7 linked regions of the Homo sapiens genome follow. The protein of the gene in region 6 interacts with the protein of the main gene of each other region in a pairwise test. Each region holds a gene or a part of one and is shown on either strand. Other genes may lie near its edges.

Region 1 (3,500 bases), on a different chromosome or scaffold from region 6:
ATACAGACCCGCCTCCCCTTGCCAGAGTCCTCCACTACCTTAAGTAACAGAATGAGAATGTTCAGTCTTGTCTCTCCTTTGGCAGATAAAAGAGGGGCACAAATTCTGCAGCCAAAATCTGGCCTAGTCTAGCTATCCCAGTGAAATAGGCCAAGACAAGAGTGCTGCTTTGGACCAGAGTGCCCAGAAGAGCATAGTCCTCCCTCCACCTGGCCGACACCTGGCATCTCTGGGCCAGGGTCGGCCTCTGGGGGCCAAAGGGGCATTGGGACCCTTTGGGCTCCCAGGCCTGGCACACAGTGGCCTCTCAAGCCATTGCAAGGGACACAAAGCTATAGGCGACGGCAAGGTCAGGGCGGCCGCTGCTTGGGAGCGAGAGGGAAGGAGCAAAAGTGAGTCCTAAAAAGCTCGGCCATCTGGGACCTTCAGGGATGGGGCTGTCGGGACCTTGAGCTCTGGGACCTGCTGACTGCATGAACAAACTGGGCAGAGCCTGGCAGCGGGTGGGCAAAAGGACAACTGACTCACAAAGAAAATGCTCGATTTCAGGAAAGACGTGTTCTTTTCTTTCCTTCTTTCCTTCTTTTCTTTCCTTTCTTTTCTTTTTCTTTCTTTTTCTTTTTCTTTCTTTTCTTTCCTTTCTTTCTTTCCTTCCTTCCTTCCTTCTCTTTTCTTTCTTCCTTCCTTTCTTTTTTTTTTTTTTTGATGGAGTTTCGCTCCTGTTGCCCAGGCTGCAGTGCAATGGCACAATCTTGGCTCACTGCAACCTCTGCCTCCCGGGTTCAAGTGATTCTCCTGTCTCAGCCTCCTGAGTAGCTGGGATTACAGGCACGTGCCACCATGCCCGGCCAATTTTTGTATTTTTAGTAGAGGCGGGGTTTTACCATGTTGGCCAGACTATTCTCAAACTCCTTACCTCAAATGATCCATGTGCCTCAGCCTCCCAAAGTGCTGGGATTACAAGCATGAGCCACCATGCCCAGCCATGGAAATGCATTTTCTATCTAAAAAAAGTTAGCATTAGGTTAGAGAAAACTTTCGTTCTCTGGAAGATTCTCTCATGCCCCAGTGATGGCATAAGACCTCTTGAGATGAGGGCTGCCATCTTTTCTGTGAGGCCGGCCTGCAGCCTCAGAGTGTCCAGCTGCAGCACCCCATGGTCACATCCATCTTGGTCCTGGATGACCACCTTCCAGTTGTAGCTACAGCTCCCAGCTGTAGCACGGGGTGATGCTGAGCACAGGGAGAATGCAGCCTTGGCTGCTTTGAAGCTGAAAGGAAGCCACAACGCAGGGCAGCTGAAGGTCCTGCTCGGCCCACCACGTAGGGGACCTGCCAAGTACCACCTTCTGCCACTTGCTTTTCCCTGGACAGCAAGCTCTTCAGCACAGAGGCCACGCGCTGCTCAGCTTGGTGGCTTTGCCACACCCTGTCCACGGGAGGCTCGCCTTAAAGGCCTGTTGACTGAGTGAAGATGAACCTGTCAGGCTTCAGGGGCTCAGGAGAGGATGAAGGACTCGGAAAGAAAGTCGCTCCTGAGTGGGACTAGGGGCTGCTTCTTTGGGAGCTGGGGGCTGTTGCGGCCCCCTCGCTCTTCCCCGTGAGGTTTCTGATGGTGGCTCTAACCTGGCCGGGGAGAAAGACCTAGAAAATGCAAGTGTTCCAGGGAAGCAAACTGCCCAGGGTGGCTGCTCCCTACCGGGTCCTGGCCATGGACGGGAGGGTCCCCTCGGGGGTCAGGCCCTGACACTGCAGCCCCCCGACCCCACAGGCACTGCCTCCCTCCGGGATCCACATCTTCGCCTCTCAGCTCCACACACACCTGACTGGGAGAAAGGTGGTCACAGTGCTGGTCCGGGACGGCCGGGAGTGGGAGATCGTGAACCAGGACAATCACTACAGCCCTCACTTCCAGGTAGGAACCTGCACCCCACCCCTGCCCCGCCCCCACACCCTGCCACCACACGACCTCCTGGGTCTACTGTTTCCTGACACCATAGGGATGGCTCCAGGCTGGCTTCTTTTTCCTGGGCCAGCCCCACCCGCCCCCCACCCATGTGGCCTGTGCTCCCCACTTGGGTGTCTGGTGTCTGATCGTAGGGAGGCCTCTGGCACATGGCAGATGGTGGTGGGATTCGGGAGACCCAGGCGGCCCTCTGGGAACATCAATCTTGGTCTTGGATAACCACCTTCTGGTTTGAATCTAATGCCCTCCCTGGCCAGAAGCCACACTTAGCGGGCTCTGGCTTCCACTGTAGAGGCTGGGGCAAAATGGACACCCCCAGAGGTCAGGGAGGCCTGAGGGAGGACACAGTGGCCGGGGGTCTGGTCTGCAGCTCTCTGAGGTCTCCTCTCCCCCACCCCTCGGCTCTGCCTGCCCCAGGAGATCCGCATGTTGAAGAAGGTCGTGTCGGTCCATCCGGTGAGTGCCCAGCGGGAAGGCTGTCCCACTCACTGCCACCAGCTGGGGTGGCTGAGAGGGCTGGGGGTGCCACCAGAAGGAGAGGGACACAGAAAGTGATAGGGGGAGGGAGAGCCATCCAGGGCAGGGGGAGGGTGCCTGTGGGTGGCTCTGGGCTGGGCTACCTCATGGGGAGACTCACTCAGGAGTTCATGGAGAGACGTTGGAAAGAGTGGAGCAGACAGGACACTCCCAGGGGACGCGTGTCCTCAGTCTGATGGGCCGACCACAAACCCGAGAGTGTTTGGGGGAGATGAGGGCACTAAGGCAGGCAGTGGAGCCCTGATCCCACAGAGGGCCAAGCCCAGGCCTCGGTGGGGACTTGCCCAAGTCCTTTGAGATGTGTCATGGCCCACCAGCTGCACCCCCACTGGCCTGGGCCCTGGCCCTGTTGTGACCCACTGGGTCACAGGAGCTGATGGTTTATAACTTGCTCGGGAACACTCAGCCTGTGACCTTCGCACATGAATCTGCTGGGCTCCTTGTAGTGGACGACAGGGACTGTACCCCAGAGGTGCCGTGGCATGCACAGTGGCGTGGTCCTATGGGGGCGAGGCCTCCAGCACCTGCCAACGCCAGGTGGCAGGTGCTGATGGTCACATTGGCTTTTCCTCAGGGAGATGTGCTCATCACCTCCTGCACGTACAACACAGAAGACCGGGAGCTGGCCACAGTGGTAAGTCACCCCCGCTTCCCCCTGCACCTGCCCAGGGCGAGTGTTCAGCCTGAGCCATCTGAGGAAGGATGACAGGTCTTGACTCCTCACTTAGGGCATGGGCTCGTCCCCTCAATAAGCCAGTCGTTCTCAGCTCCCTGAACCACAGTGGCAGCATCACCAGGGAGCTTGGGATGAATGCAACCTCCTGGGTGCCACCCCAGGCCCACTGAGTCAGAGACACAGGCGGTGGCATCGGGCAATCCATGTTTTAACAAGCTCCCAGCGGATGTTGACCCCTGCTCAAGGTTGAGAAGCACTCACACCAAGAAGCTTCTCAGCACCCGGGGCTGGTGTGGGGAGAAGCTGTAGGACAAGAGGTTG
Region 2 (3,500 bases), on a different chromosome or scaffold from region 6:
ATACAGTTAATATTCACTTAGGTTTATTCATGTATTTATTACTTGTTTTGCTCTGCAGTCCTTTCTGTGTCTCTGATAGGTAAAATCACTTTTATTCTACCCTTTGGGACTTTCTTTCATGAGACTCTGCTGGTGGCCATTTCTCATATTCTACACTCTTACTGAAAGATATTTTTGCAAGGCCTACAATTATCAGTTGATAGTTATTTTCCCTTGGCAAATTAAAGCTATCATTCCAATGTCTATTGGTTGTCACTGTTGGGAAACTAGCTATCAGCTGTCTAATGATTCTTCTTTCTTGAAAGTAATCTCTTTTTTTTCTGGCTAAACTCTGACACCTCTCCTCAGTTCTGTAGAGGTCCTAATTGCCTCTTATAATAATGACTTGGCCCCATTCTCTCTACCCTTTCATTCTGGAACTCTGACTAAATGTATATTTTAGACCTTCTCCGTTATCCTATATTCCAAGTTTCTTGCTTACCTTTTTTTAAAAAAAAAACAAAAACAAATAAAAAGCTTTATAATAAAATCTACTAGATGTTAAATTACAAAACTTGATTAAAACTTACCAACCAATAGCAAAGACTGTAGAAAATCATTCTGTATCCTCTTTTCATATATTCTATTTCTTTGCTACTCTGTGGAAATTTCTGAATAAATTCTTGGGAACAGTCTTCCAATTGACTAATTCTCTAATTCTGTCTAATCTGTTGCTAATCCCTTCAATTGATTTGGTTCTTAATTTTAATCATAATTGTTTTTACTTCCAGTTCTATCGTTATTCTTTAGGATTTCTTCTTCTCTACACATATTTTTATTTCCTTAAACACAGTAAGCCTAGCTACTGCATATTTTGTTTAATAATCTGACTATCTAAATTATTTTAAGGGGCCAGGCATGGTGGCTCACGCCTGTAATCCCAGCACTTTCGGAAGCCGAGGTAAGCAGATCACTTGAGGTCAGGAGTTCGAGACCAGCCTGGCCAACGTGGTGAAACCCCATCTCTACAAAAAACATAAAAAATTAGCCAGGTGTGATGGCACACGCCTGTAATCCCAGCTACTTTGGAGGCTGAGGCAGGAGAATCACTTGAACCTGGGAGGCGGAGGTTGCAGTGAGCTGAGATGGTGCCACTGCACTCCAGCCTGGGTGACGGAGAGAGACTCCATCTCAAAAAAAAAAAAAAAAAAAAAAAAAAGATTATTTTAAGGTATGTTTCTGCTGCCTGTTACTTTTGCTCATTCTCACATGCGAGATCTCACTTTCTTGTTAGATTATTCACTTTATGTGCTGCTAACTTTCCTTGCAATATAATGTGAATAAAGGAGGTCTAAGATAAAGGTGAATATTTTCATACACAAAAAATCTTTATTTTCATATGCTAGGTGTCTGGGAAACTAAGAGACCACAATCACATCAAATTTACAACTAGTGCTTCCTTTAGTCACCCAGAGTATGAACTTGGGTTGCATGAATACAACTTCTAGCCCAATTTTTTCCTCTCTATTCTGCTCAGCACAACCAGAAAAACATTCTGTTTTGTTTTTGTTTTTGTTTTTTGTTTTTTGAGTTAGAGTCTTGTTCTGTCACAAGGCTGGAATGCATTGACGTGATCTCCACTCACTGCAACCTCCACCTCCCGGGTTCAAGTGATTCTCCTGCCTTCAGCCTCCCGAGTAGCTGGGACTACAGGCACGCGCCACCATGTCCAGCTAATTTTTGTATTTTTAGTAGAGATGGGGTTTCATCATGTTGGCCAGATGGTCTCAATCTCTTGACCTCGTGATCCACCCACATCGGCCTCCCGAAGTGCTGGGATTACAGGCGTGAGCCACTGCGCCAGCCAGAAAAATATTCTTTACAGAGTCCCTTGGGGAGCAGGTAGGAAGCAAGTTTAGTTCTTCCACTGTAAGTGTATTCTTTTGGGGTATCTTTTTTCTCCCATAGATTTTTGGGGAACAGGTGGTATTTGGTTACACGAGTAAGTTATTTAGTAGTGATCTGTGAGATCTTGGTGCACTTTTGGGTACCAATTAAATGGGAAAAGGAATCCTATGGGAATCCACAGTTTTGAATGGTCCCTGAGTTTATGGTTTTTACCCGTTTTGGGTAGCTTCTACAAAGGGTCCTAAGGGTAAAACTAAGTTTCAGTACTTCACTTCTGTATAGTTTTATCCTGATAATAACTTACCTAGCATATCTTCAAAGATTTTAAGCAGATATTTTCTTACCTATAAGCCTATCATTTTAGTAGTCTTCAGCAGTAAATATATGCCAAAAACAGAATAAAGCCTTTACTCACTCTTTGGTCCAGTTCAACATAGCTTCTGGATCCACCAAAACTCTTTTTGCAGAGGTCAAAAATGAGTACTAAACTGCCCTATCAATTTGGCATACTTTTCATTCCTATCTAATTCAACCTGTAAAGTTGCTGACACACCTGATTATTTTCTTCTCTTAGAGCCAGCTTTTGACTTCCACAACAACACACTTTCCTATACAACTCCTATATAATCATTCCTCAAGGCTCAGATGAGACAGGTCTTCTCACTTCTATATTTCCTCTGCCACCTGTTTGTCTTGGCCGACCAATTCATCTTCTATATGGACAGCCTGTTAACTGGATTTCTTCTGCCCACTCTTGTCCCTGTACAATCCATTCTGTGCCAAAACAACCAGAGTGATCTATTAAAAATAAAAATTAGATGTCACACTGCCTTTGCAAAACCTAAGGTACTGGATTTGAACTTTAGATAAACTCCACATTATTTAACATGGCGCATAAATGATGACTCCTGCCTATTCATCTATAATTAACATTTTATATAATACCGTAGGCAAACTGACCTTTTTTCCAGTTCCTCAAATACACCAAAATCTTTTCTGCCAGATCCTTGACATTTACTGTTCCCTTTTCCTGGAATACTGTTTCCCTACTCTTTGCTTGGTTATGTCCTACTTCCACTTCAGATTTCACTATTACTGACTTTCTCAGAGGCCTTCCCTGACTACTCAATGAAATAGCATCCTGTTTTTTTCTTTTAGAGTATTTATTGTAATTTGTGATTAAGTACTTATTGTGGGTTTATTTTTAAGTCTGTTCCCCCAGTTAGCTGTAGGTTCTAGGCATGTAGAAACCCTATTTGTTACCTTCTCACTCTGTGCCCAGTTTCTAAGCAGTGTCTGGCACATAGTAAGCACTCAATGAGTATATGTTAAATGACTGATTTCTCTCCCTTTAAGCAGACCCACAGGAAAAGTACAAGTCTAATGAGATACTACATGTAGAAGACAGAATCAGAACCAAAGGGGATGAGTTAAATGATGGGAATGTACATAAGAATCAGGTCAAAGTAAGACATATCTGCAATTATAATGGTTAAAGTTATATAAGCCAAGATTACTTTCCGTTAATATTTAATGAATAAGATCAGCACATGCCTCAAGAACTCAATACATGGCTTTTAATTATTGTCTATAATTTAAGGAAATAATCACCT
Region 3 (3,500 bases), on a different chromosome or scaffold from region 6:
GCAGAGGCAGAAGAATCGCTTGAACCCGAGAGGCGGAGATTGCCTGAGATCGTGCTATTGCTTTCTAGCCTGGGCGACAAGATGGAAATTCCATCTCAAAAAAAAAAATTAGCCGGCTATGGTGGCATGTGCCTGTGGTCCTAGCTACTCAGGAGGCTGAGGCGGGAGGATCACTTGAACCTGGGTGGTGAAGTTTGCAGTGAGCCTTGATCATACCACTGTACTCCAGCCTGGGTGACAGAGACTCTGTTTCCCAAAAAAAAGCAATTTATCTCTAATTTGTCACCCTTATTTTGGCCTTGTCCCAGTGAATTTTTTCTTATTTCTTTTTTTTGAGACACAGTCTTACTGTTACCCAGGCTGGAGTGCAGTGATGCAATCTTGACTCACTGCAACCTCCACCTCCCAGGTTCAAGCAATTCTCATGCCTCAGCCTCCCAATTAGCTGGGACAAACAGGCATGCACCACCATACCCAGTTAATTTTTGTATTTTTAGTAGAGATGGGGTTTCACCACATTGGCCAGGCTAGTCTTGAACTCCTGGCCTCAAGTGATCTGCCCACCTTGGCCTCCCAAAGTGCTGGGATTACAAGCGTGAGCCACCACACCCGGCCAAATTTTTTCTTCCCGTATAGGATGCTTGGTTACCAAGTAAAGGATTCCAAAGTGGAGCAGCAAGACAACTTTCTAAAACGCATGTCAGGGATGATCCGTCTCTACGCTGCTATCATCCAGCTCCGGTGGCCATATGGAAACCGACAGGAGGTAGGTAAAAGAGGCTTACTGTCAATAATGAGAGGTTAGACCACAGTCCATGTGTATTCCTCCCACAGGAAATGTTGGCCTTCTTTCAGAGAGCCAGTCTAGTTAAAGGATAAACTATATGGCAGTTTCATGGGTATTATGTAGAGGACTGAATGTTGATTATTAGGGAACTTTCTTGGATCACCTGGTACTTTAAAGAGCTGGTTTTGTAACAGAGTCTACCAGAGGAGAGTCTGTTATAAATCAGTCATTAAGGTTAGAAGATTTTCTTACAAGAGGAATGAGCAAGAAATTGTCATCTTAGAACTAGTTGAGACCTTAGAAGCCATCTAGATCACATACCTTACTTCACAGATGGACAGAACAAGCTCAGAAAGCTGCAGCTGGGGTTCAGGGCTTTGACTTGCCAGCCCAATTAATTTCTCAGGGAATACAGATTAGAAGGACAGAGAAATTAATAGTTACGGAGACCTAAAGAGAAAAAATAGAAGTTGATTAAATCCAAGTTTTTATTGTATGCCTGCTGTGTCCCAGGTTCTGTGCTAAAGGTACCAAGAATAATAAATAAAATGTCAATAAGGCTAATTGTTACCCTATGGAATGCCTGAAACTGAAGCTGACACATGCATATTGAAGGGAGCCTATAAAGAATGTGTGGGAACCAATGTATTGAAACATTAAAAAATAGAAGGCGAGGTAGCTTCAGGCCTGATATCCCAGCACTTTGGGAGGCTGAGGTGGGTGGATCACCTAAGGTCAGGAGTTCAAGACCAGCCTGGCCAACATGGTGAAACCCCGTCTCTACTAAAAATACAAAAATTAGCTGGGCATGGTGGTGGGCACCTGTAATTCCAGCTACTTGGGAGGCTGAGGCACGAGAATCGCTTTAACCCAGGAGGCAGAGGTGGCAATGAGCCGAGATCACGCCATTGCACTCCAGCCTGGGCAACAAGAGCAAAACTCTCCCTCAAAAAAAAAAAAAAAAAAAAAAAAAGAATGTGTGGGAACCAATGTACTGAAACATTTAAATACAGAAGGCTGGGCGAGGTAGATTCATGCCTGTAATCCCAGCCCTTTAGGAAGCCGAGACAGGTGGGTCATTTGACTCCAGGAGTTTGAGACCAGCCTGGGCAACAAGGTGAAACCATGTCTCTAAATAAAATACAAAAAAATTAGCTGAGCACGGTGGCATGTGCATGCCTGTAGTCCCAGCTACTTGGGAGACTGAAGTGGAAGAATCACTTGAGCCCAGGAGGTGAAGGCTGCAGTGATCCATGATCGCACTATAGCACTCCAACCTGGACAACAAAGTGAGACCCTGTCTCAAAAAAATAAAAGAAAAACAGAATTTGTTTAGTTTGTGTTATTTCTGCCCTGTGGCAGGTGCTAGGGCTGGATGATCTGGGGTTCATTTCCACTTGGTAATGGCTGGATGATACACTGGGAGTTTAGATTTCTAAACAAAATGAGATCAATGATAACCAAGCTTCTCTACTCCCAGATTCACCCTCATGGCTTAAATCATGGATGGCGCTGGTTGGCACAGATCTTAAACATGGAGCCCTTGTCAGATGTGACAGCCACCCTCCTCTTTGACTTCCTGGAGGTACGTAACTCAGTTATCACACAAGAGAAGGCCAGTGGTTGAGGTAGCCTTGATCCACTGGGTGACATGAATGGGGAAACAGCATAGCATTTGGGCCTGATAGTAAAACAGCATGAGGTTCCAGTGTCATACATTTTTCCCAAGCTGTAGACCAACCTTGCTTTCACTTTTACTCCATACTATATTTACTTGGCTTCTCTGGATTTTTTTCATTATAAAGAACAGAAAATTGTACATTCTAGCAAAAGTGAAAAGAGGAATTTGTTTTAGGGATATAGAAGGGACTCCCAGGCCGGGTGCGGTGGATCACACCTGTAATCCCAGCACTTTGGGAGGCCAAGGTGGGCGGATGACATGGGGTCAGGAGTTCGAGCCCAGCTGGTCAGTATATTGAAACCCTGTCTGTACTAAAAATACAAATAAAGGCCGGGCACGGTGGCTCACGCCTGTAATCCCAGCACTTTGGGAGGCCGAGGTGGTTGGATTACCTGAAGTCATGAGTTCAAGACGAGCCTGTCCAACATGGTGAAACCCCGTCTCTACTAAAAATAAAAAATCAGCCGGGTGTGATGGTGCACACCTGTCATCCCAGCTACCGAGGAGGCTGAGGCAGGAGAATCGCTTGAACAGGATCTCACTCTGTCAGCCAGGCTGGAGTGCATTAGTGTGATCATAGCTCACTGTAGCCTCAAACTCTTGGGCTCAAGCGATCCTCCCACCTAACCCTGCCAAAGTGTTGAGATTACAGGAGTGAGCCATTGCACTCAGCCAAGAAGACACTTCTTATAGAAGAAAGCCTTGGGGTACATGCCATAACAAATCTGGAACCATTTGATCTATAGTGCCAATAGTTCCTAGTTACCTTAATAGCTCCTGACGTCAGCCAGGTGCAGTGGCTGACAGCCTTTGGGAGGCCAAGGCAGGCGGATCACTTGAGCTCTGGAGTTCAAGACCAGCCAGGGCAATATGGTGAAACCCTATATCTACCAAAAAAATACAAAAATTAGTGGTGTGTGCCTGTGGTCCCAGTTACTGAGGAGGCTGAGGTTGGAGGATCACCTGAGCCCAGGGAGGTTGAGGCTACAGTGAGCTGTGATCATGCCAGTGTCCTCTAGCCTGGGCGACAGA
Region 4 (3,500 bases), on a different chromosome or scaffold from region 6:
GAACATATATCAATTCAGTATGTAGGCACTCAATCTTCACTTGTTATAAAGGGGTTTTGTTACAGAGGGCTTTTAAACCCTCTCTACAAAAGCAGTTTCAGTTGGTGTATTTTCAGGTGAATACATCTTGTCTTACAAACACACTTTGGAACTACATACTTTTAAGATAATCTAGTGTGAATTTATAACATTTGAATATAACATGTATTGAATATAATTTCATACTCCCAAGTTCGTTTCACAAAACTTAAAAAAAAGTATTAGAATTCATTTGCTTATTTACATCTTCCCTCACTGACAAAAGGAATAAAAAGGACCAGACTACGGTTAATCATAAGTCATTAACGTACACTTGTGAGTCAAGCGCAAAATTTCAAGCATCTTGTGTTGATAAATCTGTATTTCTTTTTTATTGTTATTATTGTTTTTGAGATGGAGTTTCGCTCTTGTTGCCCAGGCTGGAGTGCAATGGCATGATCTCGGCTCACTGCAACCTCTGCCTCCCAGGTTCAAGTGATTGTCCTGCCTCAGCCTCCCAAACAGCTTGGATTACAGGCATGCATCACCATGCCCAGCTAATTTTGTATTTTTAGTAGAGATGCGGTTTCACCATGTTGGTCAGGCTGGTCTCGAACTCCTGACCTCAGATGACCCACCTGCCTTGGCCTCCCAAAGTGCTGGGATTACAGGTGTGAGCCACCGTGTCCAGCCTAATAAATCTATACTTTTATAAGACCATGCATTACTGAGCTAATACAATTTTTGTTCTTTTTAGAAGAGATGTTATCTCTAGATCAGTTTACTGACTCCTTAAACAGGCTCTTCTTTGTTTCCTTATCTGGTTAGTCAATATTGAGAAAGAGGAAAATGTATTTCTAAAATATGGCTAATAGGCTGGGTGCGGTGGCTTACGCCTGTAATCTCAGCACTTTGGGAGGCCAAGGCAGCCGGATCACTTGAGGTCAGAAGTTTGAGACCAGCTTGGCCAACATGGTGAACCCCCTCATCTCTACTAAAAATACAAAAATAAGCCAGGTGTGCTGGCACACACCTGTAATCCCAGCTACTCAGGAGGCTGAGGCAGGAGAATCTCTCTTGAACCCTGGAGGTGGAGGTTACAGTGAACCAAGATCACGCCACTGCACTCCAGCCTGGGTGACAGAGCAAGACTCCATCTCAAAATAAATAAATAAATAAATAAAATACGGTTAATACATCCAATTATGTATGAAAACCATCATTTTATAATTTAGTTTTCATATTTAAAGGAAAATATGCAGATTAAAAAGTGACCTGCTCAAAGTACTAAAATAAAAATAAGTACATTTAAATATAAATATTTACTATTCTGGAGAATAAATACCATCAATTACCTGATGTTCCTGTGTTTGTACTCTGGAAAAGTGAACCTCCCAAACCAGCTAAGGCTCCCCCTAAAGAGAGGCCTGTTGATGCAGTTGTAGTTGTGGCTGTTGTCCCACCCAAATTATTTAGAGTAAATCCTGTGGATGCTATAAAAAGAGAGATAGTAAGCTTTCAAAAGGCAACTTATTTAACAGCACCATAGAAAAATACAAATACGATGTTTTTAAAAACTGACATCCATGATAAAATTGGCTCTTTGGAAGAACTACTTGCTAAAAATTACATACTTAAGAATAAAGAGAAATAGCAGCTTCAAAGCAAAAATCTGCGACAGAAATAAGGGCTTTGAGGAGTATTAGAATGGTACCAGGTAACTGATTCTAGATAGCAATATTGTCTTCAACCCAGGCCACCAACTTCACCTTCATATTAAATGAATCATAAGCCAGGCAAGGTTTATGCCAAGTCTTTGTCTTCCCCTGTCACTAAATGCCTCCTTCAAAACAAAGTCAATATTAACAGCTTTACATTTTACCTCTCTAGCCCTCTCCCCTGCTTTGCTCTCTAAATAGGGACATCAAGACAGCCTCTCCTGCTTCAATGCTCAAAGCTGAATTTTCTTCTTTATAAATCAATAATTTCTGTAGTAAGGTGACTATCTATGTTCTCTAACCAGATAAAATTGAAATTTAACCATTAAATGCAACGGTTTTTCATTCTGCCTCACCTGCTGGAGTTGATGTCAGAGCAGACGAAAGAGTCAGACCGCTAGCTGAGGTAGAGGTAATAGGTAGAGCAAATGGTGTGGCAGATGCTGCAGGTTTATTGAATCCTAAACTGAAGCCTGTTGTAGCTGCAGATGTAGTGGCTGGCGTTCCTATTTAAATAAATAAATGAATAAACAAACAAACAAAAATCCTACTTTACCTGTAAGTGTTCTATTATACTGGTTTCAATAAGGATCCTTAAAAGTTCATGATACTACCTTTTGCCAATAGAAGAAGGGTGTATCTGTGAGAGAAAATATGTAAAAGTTGAGACTAAACCATGGTGAACACAAAAAAGATGGCTCTTTAAGAAAAACAAAAGAATGGCCAGGTACAGTGGCTCACGCCTGTGATCCCAAAACTTTGGGAGGCCAAGATGGGCAGATTGCTTGAGGTCAGGAGTTCAAGACCAGCCTGGCCAACACGGTGAAACCCTGCCTCTAGCTAAAATACAAAAATTAGCTCAATGTGGTGGTGCACACTTGTAACCCCAGCTACTCGGGAGGCTGAGGTACGAGAGTCACTTGAACCTGGGAGGGGGAGGTTGCAGTGAGCTGAAATCGTGCCACTGCACTCCAGCCTGGGAGACAAGAGTGAGACTCTGTCTCAAAAAATAAAAAAACAGAAAAGAAAATCCAATCGATGTAACATATCAATTTTTATTCTACTCCTAGATTTACCTCTAATGCAGCATTTATCCTCCTCCTTTCCCTCTCAGCAGAAAAATGGTCCCTCCTCTCTAATACTCTATCAATAACCATTCTCTATTCCTTTCTTCTGGCCCTTGTGTCTCTGTCAGCCCCCAGCTGTCTCCCTATTCCTTTTCAGTCCTTTTTTTCTGTAGCTCTCTTTCCTCTGTTCATGTCTTAACTGACACTTCCTAGAGTTCCATTCCTACCTCCTTACTTCCCCAATGACACACCCACTTTCATCATTTCTCCTACAGGTGATTAAGTCTAAACTGACATTTACCTAAGTCCTCATTGTCTAGTTCTATCTTGATGTCCCTTTGGCCTCCTACATATCTCACCACAAACATTTTTTGCTATATCTCCAACCTTGCTCAGTTCAATTGCTTAAGCCAGAAACCAGTCATCCTTGACATCCTTTCCTTCTCCTGTACTCCATTAGTTACAAATCCTGTCGATCCTACTTCAGAAATATCCTGTACTACAAGCATCCTTAAAAACCTTAGCTTAGGCCATATCTCTCTTAAGAACTACTACAACAGCATTTATTTCTCTGGTATCAGTCTCTTCTAACCTCTAATCTATTCTTAAAATTATCTTGGTTACCTTAAAAAAAAAAAAAAAAAAAAAGACAGGTGCCGTGGCTCACGTCTGTAATCCCAGCACTTTGGGAAGCCAA
Region 5 (3,500 bases), on a different chromosome or scaffold from region 6:
TTATCAAAATTTAAAATTTGAGTGCTGCAAAAAGCACCATCAATGAAGTAAAAAGACAACCCACAGACTAGGCGCAAATATTTGCAAATCATATTATTATATCTGATATAGGTCTAGTCTCTAGAAATGTACTCTTACAACTCAAGATTAAAAAAGATGAGTAACTCAATTTAATAGTAGGCAAAGGATTTCAATAGATTTTTTCCAAAGATATACAAATGGCCAATAATCACATGAAAAGGTGCTCAACATAATTAGCCAGTAGGAAAATGCAAATCAAAACCACATTGAGATACTACTTCACACTAAGAAGGCTAAAATATAATAAAACAAAACAAACAAAAACCGGAAAACAGCACGTCAGCCAGGATTTGGAGAAGTTAGAACCCTCATACATTGCAGGTAGAAATAAAAAATGGTGCAGCTGCTTTTGGGAAATAGTTCGACAGTTCCTCAAAAGGCTAAATGTAGAGTTACCATATAATTCCACTCCTAGGTATATACCCAAAAGAATGGAAAATGTGTTCACTCAAAAACTTGTACACAAATGTTCATAGCAGCAGTCTTCATAGTAGCCAAAAGGGAAAAGCCCAAATGTCCATCAACTGATGAAAGGATAGACACAGTGGAATATTACTTGGCTATAAAAAGGAATGAAGTTCTGATACATACTTCAACATGGATGATCTTTGAAAACAGTAAGTAAAAGAAGCCAGTCACAAAAGGCTCCTTTTGTGTATGATTCCTTTTTTATGAAATATCCAGAATAGGCAAACCCAAAGGAACAGAAAGTAGATTAATGGTTGCCAGGAGCAGGGCAGGGGAGGATGGGGGATGAGGAGTGATTGCTAACAAATATGGAGTTACTTTCTGGGATGATGAAAAGGTTCTAAAATTAGATAGTGACGATGATTGCACAACTTTGTGAAGATACCAAAAACCACTGAATTGTATACTTTAAAATAGTGAATATTATGGCATGTGAATTACATCTAATTTTTTTAAAGAAGAGATTCAATCCCAGGTCTGTCTGACTCCAGGGTGTAAACAGCAAATCACTATACTATACTAACAACTGTGTGATTATATAGTATTTATAAATTCTATTGGATTGCTTGTTCCTTTCAATTGTTTTTCTAGGTCAATGATTCCCTGTCTAGGTTTTGCAATACCCTGGGATATCTCTAGTGATCAATGAGTGTTACAAAATTCTCAGCTCCCAATTTTTATTCACTTTAAAAAGTATATAAGTGACTCCTGAAAAATATTTGACTCCTATTATCATGAAATACTTTTAGCAGGAGGAAGTGGCATGACAAAAATTAAACAATGGCAAACTGTTGCAATTTCAAAAAGTTTGTGAATCACTAATCTATACAGAGTTAGAGAGTATGCTAAGGATGAAGACAGGATGTGAATCTGATAGGGTGCAACTCAATGACAGGTAATCTTGAAAGTTTTTACAATTTGTCATAAAAACGCATTGATGAAATACCTGAGAGGGCACGATCAATTGCCATATTAAGAAACAAATGTCCACATCCACACACCCTGATTAGTTCCCTTCCAAACCATTTAGTTACTGCCATATATAGTCAGATATGTATGTTTGTTTCTGTATGGCTTTTCTTTACCTTGTGCCTTACTACAGGGTGAGACCTCTGAAAAAAGAAGTCGATGAGCATAAACTAGAAGAAGGTACCATTGGGCTGTATAACTGGGTAGAAATACAAAAGGAGTTTTGATGAAGGTGATTAAGATAAAAAATAATGGGTCTGGCGTGGTGACTCACACCTGTAGTCCCAGCACTTTGGGAGGCAGAGGCAGGCAGATTGCTTGAGCCTAGGAATTCGAGACCAGCCAGGGCAACATGGCAAGACCCCATATCTACAAAATATACAAAAATTAGTGGGGTGTGGTGGCATGCACCTGTAGTCCCAGCTACTTGAGAGGCTGAGGTGGGAAAATCGCTTGAGTCCAGCAGGTCGAAGCTGCAGTAAGCCGTAATTGTGCCACTGTATTCCATCCTGGGTGACAGCATGAGACTTTGTCTCAAAATAAATAAAAATAAAAAATAAATTTCAAAAACGTAAAAATAATGCATCCTACACTTATGAAATAAAAGACTGATTTCAGCATTGTCCTCCAAATCTAGCCTTTAGCTAACTCTGATCAAGAGAGAAGTCGTGATCTGTACTTTGCATAATTCTATTATTTCAAAGGTTACTTGAGCATAATTAAATGCCCACTTAATTAACAATTATTATTCCATCTAATTTTTTTTCTTCCGGGTCTGCAAAGCATGTATCTGAGCTCCCACTACCTTCCTGAGGAGTTATAGTATTCCCTTCATAGAAAATCCATGAGTGTGAAACCAAGCCTGATCTCTGGGCTGTAGATTGAGAAATGAGCTGAGCTGTAGGTTTTTAAAAAAAATATATATATATATATATAAAATAAACATTCTTCAGGATATTAAAATTAATGTCCCATGAGTTCTTCCTTAAAGTATTAGAAACTGTCTCCCTGCCTTGGGGTAAGGAGCAAATGAGTCCTGGCCTAGTCTGATGTTTCCTCAACTGTAAAATGTTCAAGCTAAACTAGAATCACCAGACGATCTCTTTAAGATGCTTTCCAGCTCTGACATCCGATTATTATAGAGCTCTTGCTATCTGTTACCACATAAAAAGACAGCTTGGATTATTGTAAACTAGCTCCTAAAAACACAACTTTTATTTATTAGTGTGACTAGGAAGGCTAACAAGTGATAGACATCACAGCCACTGGAGCAGGACATAAACAAAATGCATTACTAAGATGCTCAAAGTACAGTGGTTTTTGTCTGTTGTATCTCAAAAAAGACATAATGGATGTTCCAGAGGACAACTAAAGGGGAGAAGAGTCCCATGGGAATATAAACTAATGAGAATATATTTGGGGGCTGTAAAAGAAACCAAAATCCAAATTCTAGAACACCATGATTAGAAAAGAACCCCTTGAAGCTCAAAGCAGATCATTTTGGAACACAAAAGGCAACCAATGCATCGAATTCACACACTATAGGATAAGAACTGAAAATAGAAACCTAGACAGAAGAGGCTAGGTGGTCAGTAATAATAATTGATAATAGCCACCTTACATTTGTATATCAATTTATACTTTTCAAATTATTTCAAAGCCATTATCTCATTTGACCCTCATAATACAGCCTGGTTGTAGTCCTGGATCTAAACCAAATTAGCCGAGCAATCCTAGGTACATTTAAACTCTTTGGGCCACAGCTTTTTCATCTATCAGATGAAAAATACCTGCCCTGCCCATCTCACGGGCTATTGTGAGGATCAGACGAGGATAAAATAAAAGTATTAGTTTACTTTACAAATACAGGTATTCTCATCATACATTCATAGATTATAGAAACAAAGCAAGTTATTAAGAAAAGCCAAAAATGTTTGGAAATTCATCCCAAACACATGGTTGACATAATGGCAGACAATCAC
Region 6 (3,500 bases):
GGTTATTGATTTAATGAGAAATCACAAATATATCCCTGATTTAATGAAAAATCGCAAATTTTTCCAGGTAATTGACATTGAAGAAAAATCAACTATACTGAGATATAGTTAACATAGAGTAAAATTATCCAATTTTAAGGGCACAATTTGATGAGTTCTGATGTATATATACACTTAGGTAAACCTCTCCATAATCAAAATATAGAAGATTTTTATCACTCCAAAAAGTTCCTACATGCCCCTTTGAAATCAATCTCTTCCTTCTACTCTCAGCCTCTAACATTCACTGACATGTTTTATTTCACTTTAAATGTGTCTTTTCTAAATTTTTGTCTAAGTGATAGCATACATTATGTAGTGTTTTGTGTCTTCTGGTTTTTTTCACTTAGCATAATTTTTTTTTTTTTTGAGATGGAGTCTCGCTCTGTTGCCCAGGCTGGAGTGCAGTGGTGCCATCTCTGCTCACTGCAAGCTCTGCCTCCAGGGTTCATGCCATTCTCCTGCCTCAGCCTCCCGAGTAGCTGGGACTACAGGCGCCTGCCACCATGCCCGGCTAATTTTTTTATATTTTCAGTAGAGACGGGGTTTCACCCTGTTAGCCAGGATGGTCTCGATCTCCTGACCTCGTGATCTGCCCGCCTCAGCCTCCCAAAGTGCTGGGATTACAGGTATGAGCCACTGCGCCAGGCCGCATAATGCTTTTTGAGCACTTATGTTGTTCCATGTATCAATAATCATGATTATTTATTCAGTTTACTTATTCATTTCCCAGTTGATGGACATGGGGTAGTCCATGGTAGTTTTATCCATCCTGCAATTAGTGAAAATCCCAGTTTCTCTATATCCTTTCCAAAACTTGATATTGTCAATCTTTTTAATTTAAACCATTTTATTGAATGTATAGTAGTATCTTATTGTGGTTTTAATTTGTATATCTCTTGTTTTGGTGGGAGGGTGGGACAGAGTCTCACTCTGATGTCCAGGCTAGAGTACAGTGGTGCATCTCAACTCACTGCAACCTCTGCCTCCGAAGCTCAAGTGATTCTTGCGCCTCAGACTCCCCAGTAGCTGGAATTACAGGCGCGCACTGCCATGCCTAGCTAATTTTTGTATTTTTAGTAGAGATGAGGTTTTGCCATGTTGGCCAGGCTGATCTTGAACTCCTGGCCTTAAGTGATCCATCCACCTCAGCCTCCTAAAGTGTTGAAATTACAGGCATGAGCCGTGGTGCCCGGCTGCATATCCCTAATGAGCAATCCTGTTGAGCGTCCTTTCAGGTGCTTCCTTGCCATTCATATATTTTTTTGGTTGTGTTCAAACTTTTGTCTATATTTTTGTTAAATTGTTGTATTATTAAGTTGTAAAGGATACAAATCCTTTATCAGATATATGTTTCTTAAATATTTTTTCTCACTCCATGGCTTGCCTTTTCAATTTATTTTTATTTATTTATTTTTTTGAGATGGAGTCTCACTCTGTCACCCAGGCTGGAGTGTGGTGCAATCTCGGCTCACTGCAAGCTCCGCCTCCCAGGTTCACGCCATTCTCCTGCCTCAGCCTCCCAAATAGCTGGGACTACAGGTGCCCGCCACCACGCCCGGCTAATTTTTTTGCATTTTTAGTAGAGATGGGGTTTCACCATGTTAGCCAGGATGGTCTCGATCACCTGACCTCGTGATCTGCCCGCCTCGGCCTCCCAAAGTACTGGGATTACAGGCGTGAGCCACCGCACCTGGCCATCTCTGGCTAATTTTAGGACTTGCTTTTTGTCACTTGCTTCCATCAATTTGATTATACGTGGTCTTGGTGTGATTTTCTTTGTATTTATTCTGCTTGTGCGTCATTGAGCTGCTTGGATCTAAGGGTTTATAATTTTCATCAAATTTTGAATAATATCAGCTGGTATTTCTTCAAATACTTTTTTACCAACCCCTTTTCTCCTCTCCTTCTTGGAGTCTAATTTTACATATTTTAGACAACTTGATATTGTCAAGTTGTCTCATGTCATCGATATTCAGTACTTTTTTAGCCTTTTTTCACCTCACACTTTATTTTAAATGGTTTCTATTGTTATTCAAGTTCTCATCTTTTCTTCTGCATGGTCTAACCTTCTGTTAATATTGTTCAAGATATTTTCATTTTATATACATTTCATTTCTAGAAGTTTCATTTGGGTCTTTTTATATCTTTCTTATCTCTTCTCACCATGTTCATGCCTTCCTCTACATTCTTGAAAAAATGGAAGACATTTATCCATTTTAATATCCTTGTCTGCTAATTCTATCATCATTGTCATTTCTGGGCCTGATTTTATTGTTTGATTGTTCTCCTGAGAGTCATATTTTCCTGCTGCTTTGTATGGCTAGTAATCTTTTTCTTTTTAATGGGCTTTATTTTTTAGGACACTTTTAGATTTTTTAATTTTACAGAAAAACTGAGAAGATAGTATAGAGTTTTTTATATGCCCCATCCTCACTTTTCTCTATTATTAACATCTTAGATTTAACATTTTTAACAACTAATGAACCAAATTGATACATTATTAACTGAAATCCATAGTTCCTTTAGATTTTCTTAGTTTTTACCTAATGTCATTTTTCTGTTTTAGGTTTCCATCTAAGGTGCCACATTACACTAAGTTGTCATTTTCTTTAGGTGCCCCTTGGCTGTGACAGTTTCTCAGGCTTGCCTTATTTTTTATGACTTAGATAGTTTTGAGGAGTACTGGTCATATATTTTGTAAGGATGCTGCACTATTGCAATTTGTTTGATGTTTTCCTCATAAAATTTGGGTTATTAATTGGGAGAGGAAGACAGTAGCATTAAAGTGTCATTGTCATCACATCACATTAAGTGTTCATACCGTCAACATGATTTATGACTATTGATGTTGACTTTAATCACCTGGCTGAGGAAGTGTCTGTCAGGTTTCTCCACTGTACTCTTTTTCCCTCCTTCTATACTTGTATACTTTGGAAGGCAGTCATTGTGCACAGCCCACGCTTAAGGAGGGGATAGTTATGCTCCCTCTCCCTGAGGGTAGTGTATTAATGTAAATTATTTGAAATTTTGCTGCCCTGGAGATTTGTCTCTTCTGGTTGGTAATTTTTTACTGGATGCCAAATATGATGAATTTCATATTGTTTGTACTGATGAATTCATATTGGTGAATTTTGTATTTGCTGGATTTTGTTGTAGTTCTTTCAGTTCTATTGAATTTAACTCTGGCATGCAGTTAACATGGTATGACATCATTTTGTTCCTTCTGAGGCTTAAATAAAGCCTAGTTAGAGTGGCTCAAGAGCAGCCTTTAATCTAGGGCTAACTTAGCCCATTTTCTAAAGTAATATACCCTTCTGATTACCCTACCTGACGTTGACATATTACGACATTTTTCCATTCTGGTTGGCAAGATTGAAAATTATTCCCAGCCTTGTGTGAGCTCCAGAAATTGTTCAGTCTATTGATTTCTGGAGGTTCTTTCTCTGGCCTTGACGAGT
Region 7 (2,548 bases), on a different chromosome or scaffold from region 6:
TGAAACTTTACTGCCATGGAAATAACCAGGGCAAAAGATTGGTGTGAGGCAGAAGGCTAATTCAAGTTGGGATTTTTTTTTTTTTTTTTTTGAGACGGAGTCTCGCTGTCACCCAGGCTGGAGTGCAGTGGCGTGATCTCGGCTCATGGCAACCTTCGCCTCCTGGGTTCAAGTGATCCTCCTGCCTCAGTCTCCTGAGTACCTGGGACTACAGGTGCATGCCATCACGCCTGGCTAATTTTTGTATTTTTAGTAGAGACAGGGTTTCGCCATGTTGGCCAGGCTGGTCTCCAACTCCTGACCTCAAGTAATTTGCTGCCCTCGGCCTCCCAAAGTGTTTGGATTACAGGCATCAGCTACTGCGCATGGCCTGAGTTGGAATTTTTAAAAGTAGATATATTAGCCAGCCTGCCTCTGCATGGGATGAGTGCGGCACTGGTTCTTGGTAGGTTTTTAGAAAAATAAGATATAAATGTGTAATATAAAGAAAAAGATTAACATTTTTTTAAAAAGTAGATTTATTAAAAAACAGTTGAAGGTCTGAGTGTTGAGAGGCAAATGGGGTCTCTGGGGGATCCTGTCCTGCAGCAGGCCTGACTTTCAGATGACTGTGCTTATAAGGCAGATCAGTGCCTTCCTGGTTGCCTTAGTTCTTTCCATTTCAGACACCACATTTGGATCCTGGGGCAGCTGCTCAACTCTACCCAACTCTACCATGGCTACCTGGGATTGGAGAACATGTGAGTATTAGCTACTTTTACAGTCAAATAGGGATCTTGTAGAAGAAACAGGTAGACAGACCCACCAGTCTCTCATTCTGACCTAGCAAGCTGGTGAAGTCACTGTCGGTCCTAGTTCCCTTGTTTGTTGGGCTGCAGGCCCATTCCAACACAGCCCAACTCCCCCCCCCCCCCCTTTTTTTTTTTTTGAGATGGGGCCTCACTATATCGCCCAGGCTGGTCTCAAACTCCTAGGTTCAAAGGATCTTCTAGCCTCAGTCTCCTGAGTAGCTGGGACTACAGTGCGTGCCACCATGCCTTTTTTTTTTTTTTAATGAGACAGGGTCTCACTATGTTACCTAGGCTAGTCTCAAGCAACCCTCCTGCCTCAGCCTCCCAAGTAGCTGGGACTACAGGCACAAGCCACTGCACCCAGCTCCAACTCCTTTCTTTATGCAAATACAAAAGGCAAACCTTGGTGCGACACTTAGTCCTTAGTAGCAACCCTGGCTCATCCTCCTAGTCTTTCCCTAGTATTTGCATCAATGGCTAACTAAGCTGATGGCAGACCTCATCCTGGGGTAATACTCATTCAGGGAAGCAGCAACAAAGGAGGGTGGGGAAAGAGGTCAGGTCAGATTTACCTAACATGATATGTAGCATAATAGGTGCCCATTAAATCTCAGCTACTAGTAAAGTTGGTGAGGAAGAGGTATGGAGGCGTTAAGACCTGAAGCACTGAGTTGGTCCATAACCCTGGGCTTTAGAACAAGGTCTGGTTTTATTTTCTGGCAGAATCTTTTAAAATATAAAACAGATAAAACACATCTCAACCCTGCAATCTGCCAGCATGCCTTGTTTCTACAAGATGCATGCTAGACCATGAGACTACATAGCAAAGGGTCTTTAAGAGGATTTGGTTGGGAGAAATAGAAAAAGCAGATCTTAGGGAAGCCTGGGCTAGCCCAAAAGCTGAGCTACATCCCTGAACACTAGAGCAGTCCTTGTCTTTTCAGATCCTCGTATGTCTTCTTATTCACAACATTCCCACTTGAGTCTTCATATTCTTCCTGAAAAGGAAGGGGTACACTTTGTTAGACAGCTCTCCTAAAAGAAATGTTTGGAACCAATCTCTAAGTACCTGAGCTCATCCTGGCCTGATTCCATGGCATACTCTGGTACACTAAGATTGGCATTCATCTAAGCCTTTCTCAACTGGGGTTCCACAAGAGAATTAAGTCCCACTGCCCCAAAGCAGCCACCGTGTGCAATGAATTAACTTCTCTCGTAGACATCTAGAATGATATCAGTCATGACCCATCATTAGAGTATCTGAGAAAATAGTTTATTTAGCTCTCTATGTTTAAGATGGGGAACCCTGGTTGAGAAAGGCTGACCTACAACAGCAGTTTTCAAATGGTTCCCAAGAATCCCAGGATTCTGCTCAGAGGCCATTGCAGGGGTTGAAAGGGAAGCCAGGAAGTCTGAGCTTCCCCATGTCCAGGGCAATTCTGCTTGATTCTATTTTATATATCAGAGTACTATATTACAAGTGGAAGAGAGTTTTGCTGCCAAAAAGAAAAAAAATACTGAAAACCACTGACTCAAAAAAAGGGAGGCTATTGTCAGTTACTATGGGACTTGGAGTGAGTCAGTACCATTCCTTACATACATGTCATTCTTGATCTCTGAAACCTGCTGCTTGGGATGACCATCATAAGACCAACAAGGACATCTCCCTGTCGCTATGAGAGTATCATCTCTCATTAGATGCTTTCCTCAAAGGAGATCTAATACATGATACAGAGTCTCGGCATTTTAGTCTATAA

Evidence for each region.
Region 1: the proteins of TRIM69 (region 6) and DBH interact in binary tests that used the Homo sapiens proteins (3 or more experiments, as listed by UniProt).
Region 2: the proteins of TRIM69 (region 6) and LARP1B interact in binary tests that used the Homo sapiens proteins (3 or more experiments, as listed by UniProt).
Region 3: the proteins of TRIM69 (region 6) and GLE1 interact in binary tests that used the Homo sapiens proteins (3 or more experiments, as listed by UniProt).
Region 4: the proteins of TRIM69 (region 6) and NUP58 interact in binary tests that used the Homo sapiens proteins (3 or more experiments, as listed by UniProt).
Region 5: the proteins of TRIM69 (region 6) and MID2 interact in binary tests that used the Homo sapiens proteins (3 or more experiments, as listed by UniProt).
Region 7: the proteins of TRIM69 (region 6) and SF3A3 interact in binary tests that used the Homo sapiens proteins (3 or more experiments, as listed by UniProt).

Annotation. Positions count from the first base shown.
Region 1 is NC_000009.12:133,649,863-133,653,362, forward strand, and holds part of DBH (dopamine beta-hydroxylase precursor), read left to right. Parts: intron 1-1,771; coding exon 1,772-1,915; intron 1,916-2,383; coding exon 2,384-2,422; intron 2,423-3,077; coding exon 3,078-3,137; intron 3,138-3,500. UniProt on the Homo sapiens protein: Catalyzes the hydroxylation of dopamine to noradrenaline (also known as norepinephrine), and is thus vital for regulation of these neurotransmitters.
Region 2 is NC_000004.12:128,123,812-128,127,311, reverse strand, and holds part of LARP1B (la-related protein 1B), read right to left. Parts: exon of another isoform or gene 3,443-3,500; intron 2,686-3,442; coding exon of another isoform or gene 2,617-2,685; exon of another isoform or gene 1,824-2,616; intron 1-1,823.
Region 3 is NC_000009.12:128,535,719-128,539,218, forward strand, and holds part of GLE1 (mRNA export factor GLE1), read left to right. Parts: intron 1-636; coding exon 637-766; intron 767-1,108; exon of another isoform or gene 1,109-1,237; intron 1,238-2,267; coding exon 2,268-2,372; intron 2,373-3,500. UniProt on the Homo sapiens protein: Required for the export of mRNAs containing poly(A) tails from the nucleus into the cytoplasm. May be involved in the terminal step of the mRNA transport through the nuclear pore complex (NPC).
Region 4 is NC_000013.11:25,311,625-25,315,124, reverse strand, and holds part of NUP58 (nucleoporin p58/p45), read right to left. Parts: intron 2,243-3,500; coding exon 2,093-2,242; intron 1,512-2,092; coding exon 1,374-1,511; intron 1-1,373. UniProt on the Homo sapiens protein: Component of the nuclear pore complex, a complex required for the trafficking across the nuclear membrane.
Region 5 is NC_000023.11:107,832,366-107,835,865, reverse strand, and holds part of MID2 (probable E3 ubiquitin-protein ligase MID2), read right to left. Parts: intron 1-3,500. UniProt on the Homo sapiens protein: E3 ubiquitin ligase that plays a role in microtubule stabilization. Mediates the 'Lys-48'-linked polyubiquitination of LRRK2 to drive its localization to microtubules and its proteasomal degradation in neurons.
Region 6 is NC_000015.10:44,760,528-44,764,027, forward strand, and holds part of TRIM69 (E3 ubiquitin-protein ligase TRIM69), read left to right. Parts: intron 1-3,500.
Region 7 is NC_000001.11:37,956,475-37,959,022, forward strand, and holds the end of SF3A3 (splicing factor 3A subunit 3), read right to left. Parts: intron 1,790-2,548; coding exon 1,712-1,789; 3' UTR 501-1,711; downstream 1-500. UniProt on the Homo sapiens protein: Component of the 17S U2 SnRNP complex of the spliceosome, a large ribonucleoprotein complex that removes introns from transcribed pre-mRNAs.